Homo sapiens: one gene and its partners. The protein of the gene in region 1 purifies or fractionates together with the protein of each later gene. This does not show direct contact. Each region holds a gene or a part of one and is shown in the gene's direction. Other genes may lie near its edges. The genes, in order: RDH10, RAB39A and ERGIC1.

Region 1 (3,651 bases):
TTCTTTGCTGGGCCCTCCTTAATGAGAAGGTTGGGAAGGGGAGAGACTTCAGTGCCAGCCTGAAAGCAACCTGTACTCTTTCGCCACAAGGTCTCCTTAGCTCTTCCCTATGGTAAACTGCAGTGTATGCTGGTTACTGTTAGTCGTTTTGTCCCCGCCCACCCCCCCGCCACCCCTAACTCAGTATTTTTGAGAGGGCAGAGGATTGAACATTTTGAACTAGTTTGAAAGATTGCCATAAAAATAACACGAAGGAGCGTAAAACCCTGGGTTTGTTTATTTTACTTTCTGTTGAGTTTATAAAACATTGGTTGTTCTTATGAATTTCTAAAGTCAGGATTTAGGCTTCCAAATTACTGCTCAGCCACATTTTGGAAAGTGCCAAAGATTCTGAAATCAACATTTGTGGTCTGTTGGGAGTGCCCAGGCCACCCTGGCAGTTACTTCGCATCTCCTGACCATCCATTGGGTCCAGGGCATCTTCCTGTTGCAGGACGCTTCGGGACTCTCTCGGGTTAGACAGTGCCTCGCAAATATCACCCTAATAGGACCCTAGAGAGGGAGGCGAGGTGGTGAAACCTGGTAAGCTGGGGATTTAAACAATGTCCGCTTCTAACCATTAAACAATGTCATGATCTACGGAGGGGAGCAGGGCCTTCTGCTGCTCTAGGGGCAAAAGTAACCCCAGTTTTTCATCTCAAGTTGTCTTCAGTAAAGGTAGGTGTGACTCTGTCCCCTATAACTGCACACTGCTGACCCACTTTATGCTCTTTTTCCTCACAGTATTTTCCCTTTCCTTTTGTAGACAGATACGATTCAATAAAGAAGGAGTAAAGAAATAGGATTCTACTTTTTTTTTCCATAGGCGGATTAGCCTTCTAATAGAACACAACAAAGAACTGTTTCTCCTAAATAGGTCACATTAAACCTCATTAATTTTTTAGCAACTGCTTAAAAACTTAATCTGGCATTAAAAGTACTTATTCAAATGTTGCACCTCAAGCATCAAACCTTTTCTCTGCTCTTGGAGGAAGCTTATTTTAATGTTTTATTTTTAAATATGAACTTTATTTATTTATTTATTTATTTATTTTTCGAGATGGAGTCTCACTCTGTCACCCAGGCTGAATGCAGTGGCGCGATCTTGGCTCACTGCAACCTCTGCCTCCCAAGTTCAAGCAATTTTCCTGCCTCAGCCTCTTGAGTAGCTGGGACTACAGGCACATGCTGCCACACCTGGCTAATTTTTTGTATTTTAGTAGAGATGGGGTTTCATGGTGTTGCCCAGGCTGGTTGCGAACTCCTGAGCTCAGGCAGTCCACCCACCTCAGCCCCCAAAGTGCTGGCGTGAGCCACCGCACCTGGCCTGTTTATTTATTTTGAGATGGAATTTTGGTCTTGTTGCCCAGGCTGGAGTACAATGGCGTGATCTCAGCTCACTGCAACCTCCACCTCCCAGGTTCAAGCAATTCTCCTGTCTCAGTCTCCCAAGTAGCTGGGATTGCAGGCATGCACCACCACGCCCGGCTAATTTTGTATTTTTAGTAGAGGCGGGGTTGCACCATGTTGATCAGGCTGGTCTCGAACTCCTGACCTCAGGTGATCCGCCCGCCTCAGTGTCCCAAAGTGCTAGGGTTACAGGTGTAAACCACTGCACCCGGCCAACATGAACTTTATTTAATTCATTTACAAACCTCTAGAAATGAATATATAAATGACCTGAGCTTATATATGTTTTAAACAAGTAAGGAAATCACCAAATACAGTTTGGGCAACTTCAGCTTGCCTGTAGGTGTGTGTTGTGTTCAGTGGGGGTGGGGAACTGAATTAAAGTCCTTGCTGTGGCTGGGTCCCCAGGAACAGGCAGCAGGTGTCAAAGGGGTGGTTAGATGAATAAAAGGCAGTCCAACCAAATAAACTTGACATAGAATTTATCAAGAATCTTGTGTGTTTATGACTAATCCTGAGTAAAACAACTACCATTTGAAATAAAAGACATACATAAGTGGGAGGCGAAGTGTCATTTTCATATTTGAAGAATGGTAAAGATGAAGCTGCCGTAAAAACTGCAGTTGATTTAAGTCAGCCCTAAACAGTTACAGCACTATCAGTAGGTTCATTATGAACCGCAGATACTGACTGGGATTGTTTTCTCCCGTAACCTTTGACTAAGATGATGCAAGACTACATAACTAAACTTTTACCTACACCAGGTATTCTAAAGTTTAGCCATCTTGCCTACTTTGTCTGCATGATTATTTTGCTTAATTGTAAAATTTTAAGTGTAATCAGGTTTTTAAGAAACCCCATACAATCTGCAGTTAAATACTTAAAACAAGAAACCAGCTCCAGGAAGACATCTGATAAAATGAATGCTAATTTAGTGTGTGTAAAGCACAGAAAATTCATAGCCTTAGCTTTGAAAATGCACATAAATTGATATACCGTCTTTCTAATATTAGGCTACTTTTTAACATAAGGAGGAAGTCAAATCAAATCTCTAAATAGAAAAATTATTCTGGACCTGAATCTGTATACCAGGGAGGAGCATAGCACCTTCCTAGAGTCATCACTGTGCTTTGAGATGTTGCTTAACCACACAATTTAAGGAGTTCTTGGAAGCCTTGATGGTAATGACGTCACTTTGTATTAAAATATGGGAGGCTCCTGAATTCTCCAGCTGTTTTTCCCCTAAGCATCTAAACTTAAGAATTTATTTTCAATATTGAGTCAGAAAATTCATTTTAGAGTTGGAATTTCTGACTTCTTGCTGAAATTTACAAATCTTTTGAGAAGTTTTGATTCAGCAACCAAAATTTAAAGGAAAATTCAGTATAGATTTTACAGTGAATTTTTTAACAGGGGTTAAGGAGTGTCACAAGAGCCACCTGAATTCAGCTTCCCTTCCAGTAGTCCTCTTATGCGAAGCGTTGGTGGCAACTTTTCAAAGATGTGTTGACGTTGGCATGTGCTGTTTTCCTTCTAGAAAAAATAATGAGTGTGTCTTTTTACTGTATCTGGGTATGGAAAAGAAGTTACCCCATACATTTTTAAAAGTCCATCAGCTGAGCAAAGAACTGTTCAGTCATTTGAACAGATCATCCTGAACCAGACATTTAAGTAACCGTTAATATCTGTTTTCAGCAGTTAATACCTGTATTTCAACAAGTAGTATGTTGATCCTGACTCAGAGCAAAAGTGAGTGAAATAGAAAACCATGTGGACTTCCACTGAAAAGCTGTGGGCACTCCCAAACCAGTCCACATGCTATTCCCTCTACCTGAAACACCCTCTTCCTCCATTCCACGTGTCTTTTAAGGTGTAGCTCAAGTTTCAATATAACCTTTCCTTCCCACTGCAGCACTTCTGGCATTTTTGGATATTAGAGTTGCAAGAATCCAGAGACCTTCTTGTTCAACCCTTTGTTTTCCAGTGAAGTTGGGGTTAAATGACTCATCTAAGGTTTTTCTTTTCTTTCCATTAATCTCTCACAGCATTTGTTATCATTCTCCCAAAGTAGATGGCAAGCTGTCTGAAGGCAGTTTATTATATACATCTTTCATTTTCCTTTGCCTGGAACAAAACTCTATTCTTTTTTTTTTTTTTTTTTTTTTTTTTGAGACGGAGTCTCGCTCTGTCGCCCAGGCTGGA
Region 2 (3,651 bases), on another chromosome or scaffold:
AGGCTGAGGTGGGAGAATCGCTTGAACCCAGGAAGCGGAGGTTGCGGTGAGCCGAGATTACACCATTTCACTCCAGCCTGGGGGACAAGAGCGAGACTTCGTCTCAAAAAAAAAAAAAAAAAAAAAATAGAGACAGCCTCCCTCCTCTCCCTTCCCCACAGAATCTGGGAGCAGCCCCTAACTATTACCACTAAATCTTCCCGGCCTTTGCCTGCCTCTCCATGTTTTTTCCCCTAGCTCCTCTTCTGCTATGCATCTTTCTCCTTGCCAGGTGTCTTACTGTTACAGGAAAGGGGTCCCGATCCAGACCCCAAGAGAGGGTTCTTGGATCTTGCACAAGAAAGAATTCAGGGCAAGTCTGCAGTGTAAAATGAAAGCAAGTTTATTAAGAAAGTAAAGTGGTGAAAGAACAGCTACTACACAGACAGAGTAGGACGTACCTGAAAGTAGCAGGAGGAACGCATCCGCCCTAGGTACAATGCTTGTATATATATGAGGAGATGTGCTCTCTGCCACAAGGGTTTGTGATAAAGGATTAATTTTCTTTCTTCTTCTTTTTTTTTTTTTGGAGACAGAGTCTGGCTCTGTCGCCTAGGCTGGAGTGCAGTGGTGCGATCTCGGCTCACTGCAAGCTCCACCTCCCGGGTTCACACCATTCTCCTGCCTCAGCCTCCCGAGTAGCTGGGACTACAGGCGCCTGCCACCATGCCCGGCTAATTTTTTGTATTTTCAGTAGGGACAAGGTTTCACTTTGTTAGCCAGGCTTGTCTCGAACTCCTGACCTCAGGTGATTCACCTGCCTCGGCCTCCCAAAGTGCTGGGATTACAGGTGTGAGCCACCGCGCCCAGCTAATAAAGGATTAATTTTCTTAATTACCACATTTTGCAAGAATCGATATTATTATCTTTAAAGCAAAATTAGGAATGCCTTTGTTCTCCAGATATTGGAATATCTGGACACTCCCAAGTCTGGGTCTGTTTAGTAAACATTATTAATTTGTTCCCTTAGCCATAAACATCTAGAGGCTAGGAATGCCCAACTTTCTGGGGAACGCAGCCCAGCAAGTCCTGGCCACTTTTTTTTTTTTTTTTTTTTTTTTTGAGACAGTTTTGCTCTGTCACCCAGGCTGGAGGGCAGTGGTGTCATCCTGGCTTACTGCAACCTCTCCCTCTTGGATTCAAGCAATTCTCCAGCCTCCCAAGTAGCTGGGATTACAGGTGTGTGCCACCATACTCAGCTAGTTTTTGTATTTTTAGTAGAGACAGGGTTTCAGCATGTTGGCCAGGCTGGTCTCGAATTCCTGACCTCAAGTGATCCGCCCACCTCGGCCTCCCAAAGTGGTGGCATTACAGGCGTGAGCCACTGCACCTGGCGTCATTTTCCTAGCCCTTGCTCAAAATGGAGTCACTCTGGTTCGAATGCCTCTGACATTAGTCCCCCTCCAGCTTATTTTTATTTTTTCTTTACCCCTTTCCTCTGTCTATCCATACTGATGTTTACTTTCATCCTCTTCCCCCCACCCCATTTTTATTTTAATGTGTCTCTTACTCTTCCATTTCCTTTTAGCTTATCTTCCCTTATCCCACTGGCTTATCTTCTCTTCTCCCACTGGCTACCGCATGTGTCTGTTTTCTCTTCTGCCTCTTCCAAACATCCATATAAAGTTAATGTTTCAAAGTGATTTAATTTATGTACTCTGTTCTTAATTTTAAAAGCAAGCAATATTAACATTTTAAATTTCTTCTTAAGAGACTTTTTAAAATCTCTAAACTAAATTAGTTATTTTTGGTTTTGTTTCTTTTTAAAAAGTCCCTCATTTGATTCTCAGCTCCCTCACTGTGGTTCATGGCCTTCAAAAGAAAACGATTTTTTGTTCCTTCAGTAGAAAATGATTGGTACCAGTCTGGCAAACATGGTGAAACCCCATCTCTACTAAAAATACAAAAACAAATTAGCTGTGCATGGTGGTGCACACCTATAATCCCAGCTACTTGGGAGGCTGAGGCAGGAAAATCCCTTGAACCCAGAAGGTGGAGGTTGCAAGGTTGCAGTGAGCCGAGATTGCGCCCCTGCTCTCCAGCCTGGGTGACAGAGCGAGACTCCCCCTCCAAAAAAAAAAAAACAAATGAAGAAAATGATTGGTGGGTCCATAATTGCATAGGTAACAGAGCAGAGATGACCATAATCACTGCAGTCTACTGTAGTTCCAAGTTATTGTTAATAGAAAGGTCAGCTATAGTTCTATTATCAGGTAATATAATGTCTTAGTTAAAAGTGTATTGTAAGTAGTAGAAATCTAGCCAAATTCATTTATTTATTTGTTTTTTAGAGACAGAGTTTTGCTGTGTAGCCCAGGTTGAAGTGCAGTGGCACAATCATAGCTCACTGCAGCCCAAACTCTTGGGCTCCAGTGATCCTCTTACCTTAGCCTCCTGAGTAGCTAGGACTACAAGCACATGCTATGGCACCCAGCTAATTAAAAAAAAAAAAAATTTGTAGAGACAGGGTCTCGCTGTATTGCCCAGGCTGGTTTTGAACTTCTTGCTTCAAGTGATCCTCCCTCCTTGGCCTCCCAAAGTGTTGGGATTACAGCCATGAGCCACTGCACCAGGCCCAAATTAGTTTAATAGGGAATAAATTATAAATGATACAGATTTCATGAAAGCAAAAGCTCACTGAACATCCAGGTGTTTGGAAGTATGGAATTATTACTATTTTTTTTTTTTTTGAGATGGAGTCTTGCTCTGTCGCCCAGGCTGGAGTGCAGTGGCGCAATCTCGGCTCACTGCAAGCTCCGCCTCCTGGGTTCAAGTGATTCTCCTGCCTCAGCCTCCCAAGTAGCTGGGATTACAGGCACCTGCCACCATGCCCAGCTAGGAAGTATGAAAAATTTTAAAACAAGAGTTTGTGGACTTCCCCTCTAGTCTATTTCCCTTCTCCAACTCTGTTGGCTCCTAGCTCTCAGTCTCTGAGCCTCTTATTCAAACTCTTGAAAGAAAAAATATCTCATTGACTACTTAACTATCCAGTGAATCAGCTCCCCTGCAGTCAGGTTATTGAGTTACACAGACATATAATACAAATGTATTATAACATAAATATACTAAGTAGGTATTATGGGTCAGATAATGTAAATGTATCTGTAAAGGTCCACTTTTTTGGAAAGAGAAATTCACAGAGAAGGGAAATGAGCAGTCACCCCCAAAGTGTCTATTTTATGGTGTTTGAGAGTAAAATGGTATATAAGAATGAGATGGCCAGGCATGGTGGCTCACGCCTGTAATCCCAGCACTTTGGGAGGCCGAGCCGGGCGGATCACCTGAGGTCAGGAGTTCGAGGCCAGCCTGGCCAACATGGTGAAACCCAGTCTCTACTAAAAATACAAAAATTAGCCGGTTATGGTGCACACCTGTAATCCCAGCTACTCGAGAGGCGGAGGCAGGAGAATTGCTTGAACCCAGGAAGAGGAGGTTGCAGTGAGCCGAGATCACGCCACTGCACTCCAGTCTGGGCAATAGAGCAAGACTCCGTCTCAAAAAAAAAAAAAAAAAAAAAGAATGAGACAGCATCGTTTCTAACAAGTGCACCAGAGTGCCAAAAGATGATCTGTGTAGCCAGACATTTTTAGGCACAGTGGCTCATGCCTGTAA
Region 3 (3,651 bases), on another chromosome or scaffold:
TGGATACAGAGTGTCTCCTCCTCCCCCAATCCATGGACACATGTGTATCCTGTCCCATGACTTGGTTCTTTTCCCTGTTGGAGAATAGCTGCTCCTAGCACCCACACTTTTTTTTTTTTTTTTTTTGAGACAGAGTCTTGCTCTATCGCCCAGGCTGGAGTGCAGTGGCATGACCTTAGCTCACTGCAACCTCCGCCTCCCAGGTTCAAGCGATTCTCCTGCCTCAGCCTCCTGAGTAGCTGGGATTACAGGCACCTGCCACCACGCCTGGCTAATTTTTGAATTTTTAGTAGAGACGGGGTTTCACCATCTTGGGCAGGCTGGTCTCGAACTCCTGACTGCAGATGATCCACCCACCTCGGCCTCCCAAAGTGCTGGGATTACAGGCGTGAGCCACCACGCCTGGCCAACACTCACTCTTTCATGGTTGCTCTATTGATGGACATTTGGGTTGTTTCCAGAATTTTAATGATGTGCACAGTGCAGGAGGAAAGATCCTGATGGATAGAGTCTCCCAATTCCCGGTATCCAAGGGGAGAAGATGAAGAGCAGTTGGTTGGTGGTAAAACTGGGGAATGAGCCCCCTGCCGTGCCCAGGGAATTTAGGCTTAGGATTGAAATGACATAGAGCTGTCAGCGGGCAGTGCCCGTCCCCCTGCTTCATTCTGCTGTGTCCTTCCCGCAGCCCTGGCCTCCCACGACTACATCCTGAAGATTGTGCCCACGGTTTATGAGGACAAGAGTGGCAAGCAGCGGTACTCCTACCAGTACACGGTGGCCAACAAGGTGCGCGGGCGGTGGCTGGGCCGAGCTGTGTGCGGCGGCGCCCTCTGCTGACGGAGAGCAGAGATGACAGGCGGCTGCACCGACGCACTTTCTTCTGATTCCTTTCTGGAGGCCTTTCCTGGGGGTTAGCTTGGGCCAGGCGCTGTCCCTGGGTAAAATTGAAAAGCCCAGTCCCTGCCATGTGGCAGTCTCAGAGTCAAGGAGAACAGATCTAACCAGGAGATAGGGTGTGATGCGTTTGACAAAGAGCAGGTAGTCTCTGTCCTACAAAGGTCCTGGGGTTGCAGGTCTCAAACAGCCCTGCATCTGGTCCGAGTCCTTCAGACACAGACCCCTGGGTGCTCAACACAGACAGACACTCCTGCTCTCAGGGCACAGGCACTTTACCCAAACTCATGAGGCTACTGAGTCACACCAAGATGGCTGTTGATTAATTTGCTGTTGATTGACAGGGGTGTCCCCAGGACCCCAACACTCAAAGTCATGGAGAAGACGCCAGGCCTTAGTGGGCAGCAGAGCATGGTCAGAGTCTGCAGAGTGGGATGACCCAGCAATTAGTGGTCTCAAGACAAGACAGCCTTGGGCTTCCCTGGGGGTATCCCACCAATGGGACATGAATACTTGAAACCTGTTGGTTGAAATGCCCCTGCTAGACCCTGGCGGATGGGTTTTTCCCACTTACCACCAGGACTGTCCTTTTTCTTCTGTTCCAAGGCTGCCCAAACCCCTTATAAGTGATACCTGTTTAGCTCAGTTAATTATAACAACAGTAGGAGGCATAGCTGTCACTCATTGAGTACTTCCTGGGGGCTAGACATGCTAAGCTCTCTTCTTCCGTCTTCTCAATCATCATGACAGCTCTGATGTTGAGACTGTTATTGAGCCCATTTTGTTGATTTGACCATTGAGGCACTGAGAGGTGGTTGTAGAGCTATAAAGTGGCTGAGTGGGGATTAGAACAGGTTTTCCTTGGGCTCCAGAGCCTGGCTTCTTGATCACCTCACGCCTCGGTCTGAGGAAGGGGCTGTGAGTCTGCCCACCTGCGAGCTGCTCTCTGTCCAATGACTTAGTCCCTCTGTTCTGACTCACCCTAAATTGATGTTCCCGGGAGCCCCTGTTTCTTTTATTCACTGTTTCACAGGGGGCATCTCATTGTAACCCTCACATGCTCATAGCAGCTAACAGATGGAAAAGCACAGATGCAAGCTCAGGACCACGCTGCAGTTCAAATTCCAGCTCAGTCATTCACTAGCTATTGACCCCGGACATGTCACATAGCCACTGTGTGCCTCAGTTTACTCATTCATAAAATGGAGATGATACTTTATAAGAGTGCTGTCACATGAGGCAATGTTTTCAAAAATGCCTAGCCCACCAAAAAAAAAAAGCCTTTAGGTAAGTGATACTGACTGCTGCTATTTTTCACTCTTTTTCTCTGTCCCTCAGCTCTGGGTTGTGACCCAGACAGTCATCCTGCCCCAGCAGCTCTCCTGGAGAAAGCTGGTCTTCCCTTGCACAAAGCTCCTTTTCCCAATGCTTTGGCAAGGCCCAGCAGCCAAATACAGCTTGCTTAGCTTCTCTATGGCTGCAGCCGCACTCTGCCCTGGGAGCAGGCAGCAGCGACCCAGCGGGAGGTCAGGGCTCAGTGTTACTTACCCCCGGAGTGGCCTGGGCTCCTCAGGCTCAGCATGTGGGGTTGGGGGTACCCCAGTGGTTCAATTTGGCCTCCAGTTGTTGCAGACTTTAGCACCTTGAAGTGCCCAAACTGGAGAGATCCCAGGGATCATCATCCCAGGCCCATCCGTGTTTAGATGGGGAAGCCAAGTCCCTGAGGGAGGGAGGGGCTGGCCCAAGGATGCACTGTTAGCTCAGCCTCGTAGTATCCTTAGTCCCTGCTGTGTGCATTCTCAGGAAGGTTGGTGGCAGGGCGGGGCCTTCTGGCTTTGCAGTTCAGTCTATTCCTCTGAAGAAGCTAGCCCACTCCCCACGTGGCATTTACACCCATCACACACACACACACACTGGGACTCCTGCTTATTCATCATGTGTGGCTCAGAATGTCCCCTCCCCAGTCTCCCAGATGCCGCCCGGGAGAATGGGTCATTCATTCATTCCCCTCAACTCTCCATGTTCCTCCATCCCACATGCATGATGTCACAGTGTTAGGGATATTCTTATGTCTTCCTCCTTCTGCAGACTGCGACTCCCTCTGGGTAAAGGGCAGGACTTGCTCACCTCGGGGTCCCCAGCAGCCAGCCATGGGCCACCACAGTGGAGGCGTTCAGCAAACCATTGTTGAATAAATGAATGGATTTCGCGTGGCCCAGAGGTTGAAGGAGGCAATAGCCAAAAATTGCACTTTTCCTTTTACAGCTCTGCTTTCTAATTTATTTTCTGATTCTGGTGCTGCTTGCAGCTCACTTGGTCAATTTCTAAACAACCAAGGGTATCAAAAATGCCCAGCTGTGCACGGCAGAGTTCAGGGCCTCCAGGGGAAGGGATGTGAGAGAGGGAGTGGGGGAGTCTGGCTTCGTGGGGCAGAGAGGGAGGAAAGCCCTTTCTGGAGGGTTGCTGGGGGGCCCTCTGCAATCCAGTCCCCGCCCCCCCTGAGACACAGTTTGTACTTCTGATTCTTATATCCTCTACCCCAGGAATACGTCGCCTACAGCCACACGGGCCGCATCATCCCTGCAATCTGGTTCCGCTACGACCTCAGCCCCATCACGGTCAAGTACACAGAGAGACGGCAGCCGCTGTACAGATTCATCACCACGGTGAGTGGCCTGGGGCAGTGGGTGGGGCCCTGAGCCAGCCACCCTGCGCCTGCTCTGGGCCCCTTTCCTTGGCACCCCTCACCTGTTCTCG

The links.
Region 2: the proteins of RDH10 (region 1) and RAB39A purify together in Homo sapiens (affinity purification with mass spectrometry, with the first as the bait; one large-scale study listed by BioGRID). This does not show direct contact.
Region 3: the proteins of RDH10 (region 1) and ERGIC1 purify together in Homo sapiens (affinity purification with mass spectrometry, with the first as the bait; one large-scale study listed by BioGRID). This does not show direct contact.

What each region holds. Positions count from the first base shown.
Region 1 is NC_000008.11:73,297,451-73,301,101, forward strand, and holds part of RDH10 (retinol dehydrogenase 10), read left to right. Parts: intron 1-3,651. UniProt on the Homo sapiens protein: Retinol dehydrogenase with a clear preference for NADP. Converts all-trans-retinol to all-trans-retinal. Has no detectable activity towards 11-cis-retinol, 9-cis-retinol and 13-cis-retinol.
Region 2 is NC_000011.10:107,934,825-107,938,475, forward strand, and holds part of RAB39A (ras-related protein Rab-39A), read left to right. Parts: intron 1-3,651. UniProt on the Homo sapiens protein: The small GTPases Rab are key regulators of intracellular membrane trafficking, from the formation of transport vesicles to their fusion with membranes.
Region 3 is NC_000005.10:172,931,751-172,935,401, forward strand, and holds part of ERGIC1 (endoplasmic reticulum-Golgi intermediate compartment protein 1), read left to right. Parts: intron 1-685; coding exon 686-786; intron 787-3,437; coding exon 3,438-3,560; intron 3,561-3,651. UniProt on the Homo sapiens protein: Possible role in transport between endoplasmic reticulum and Golgi.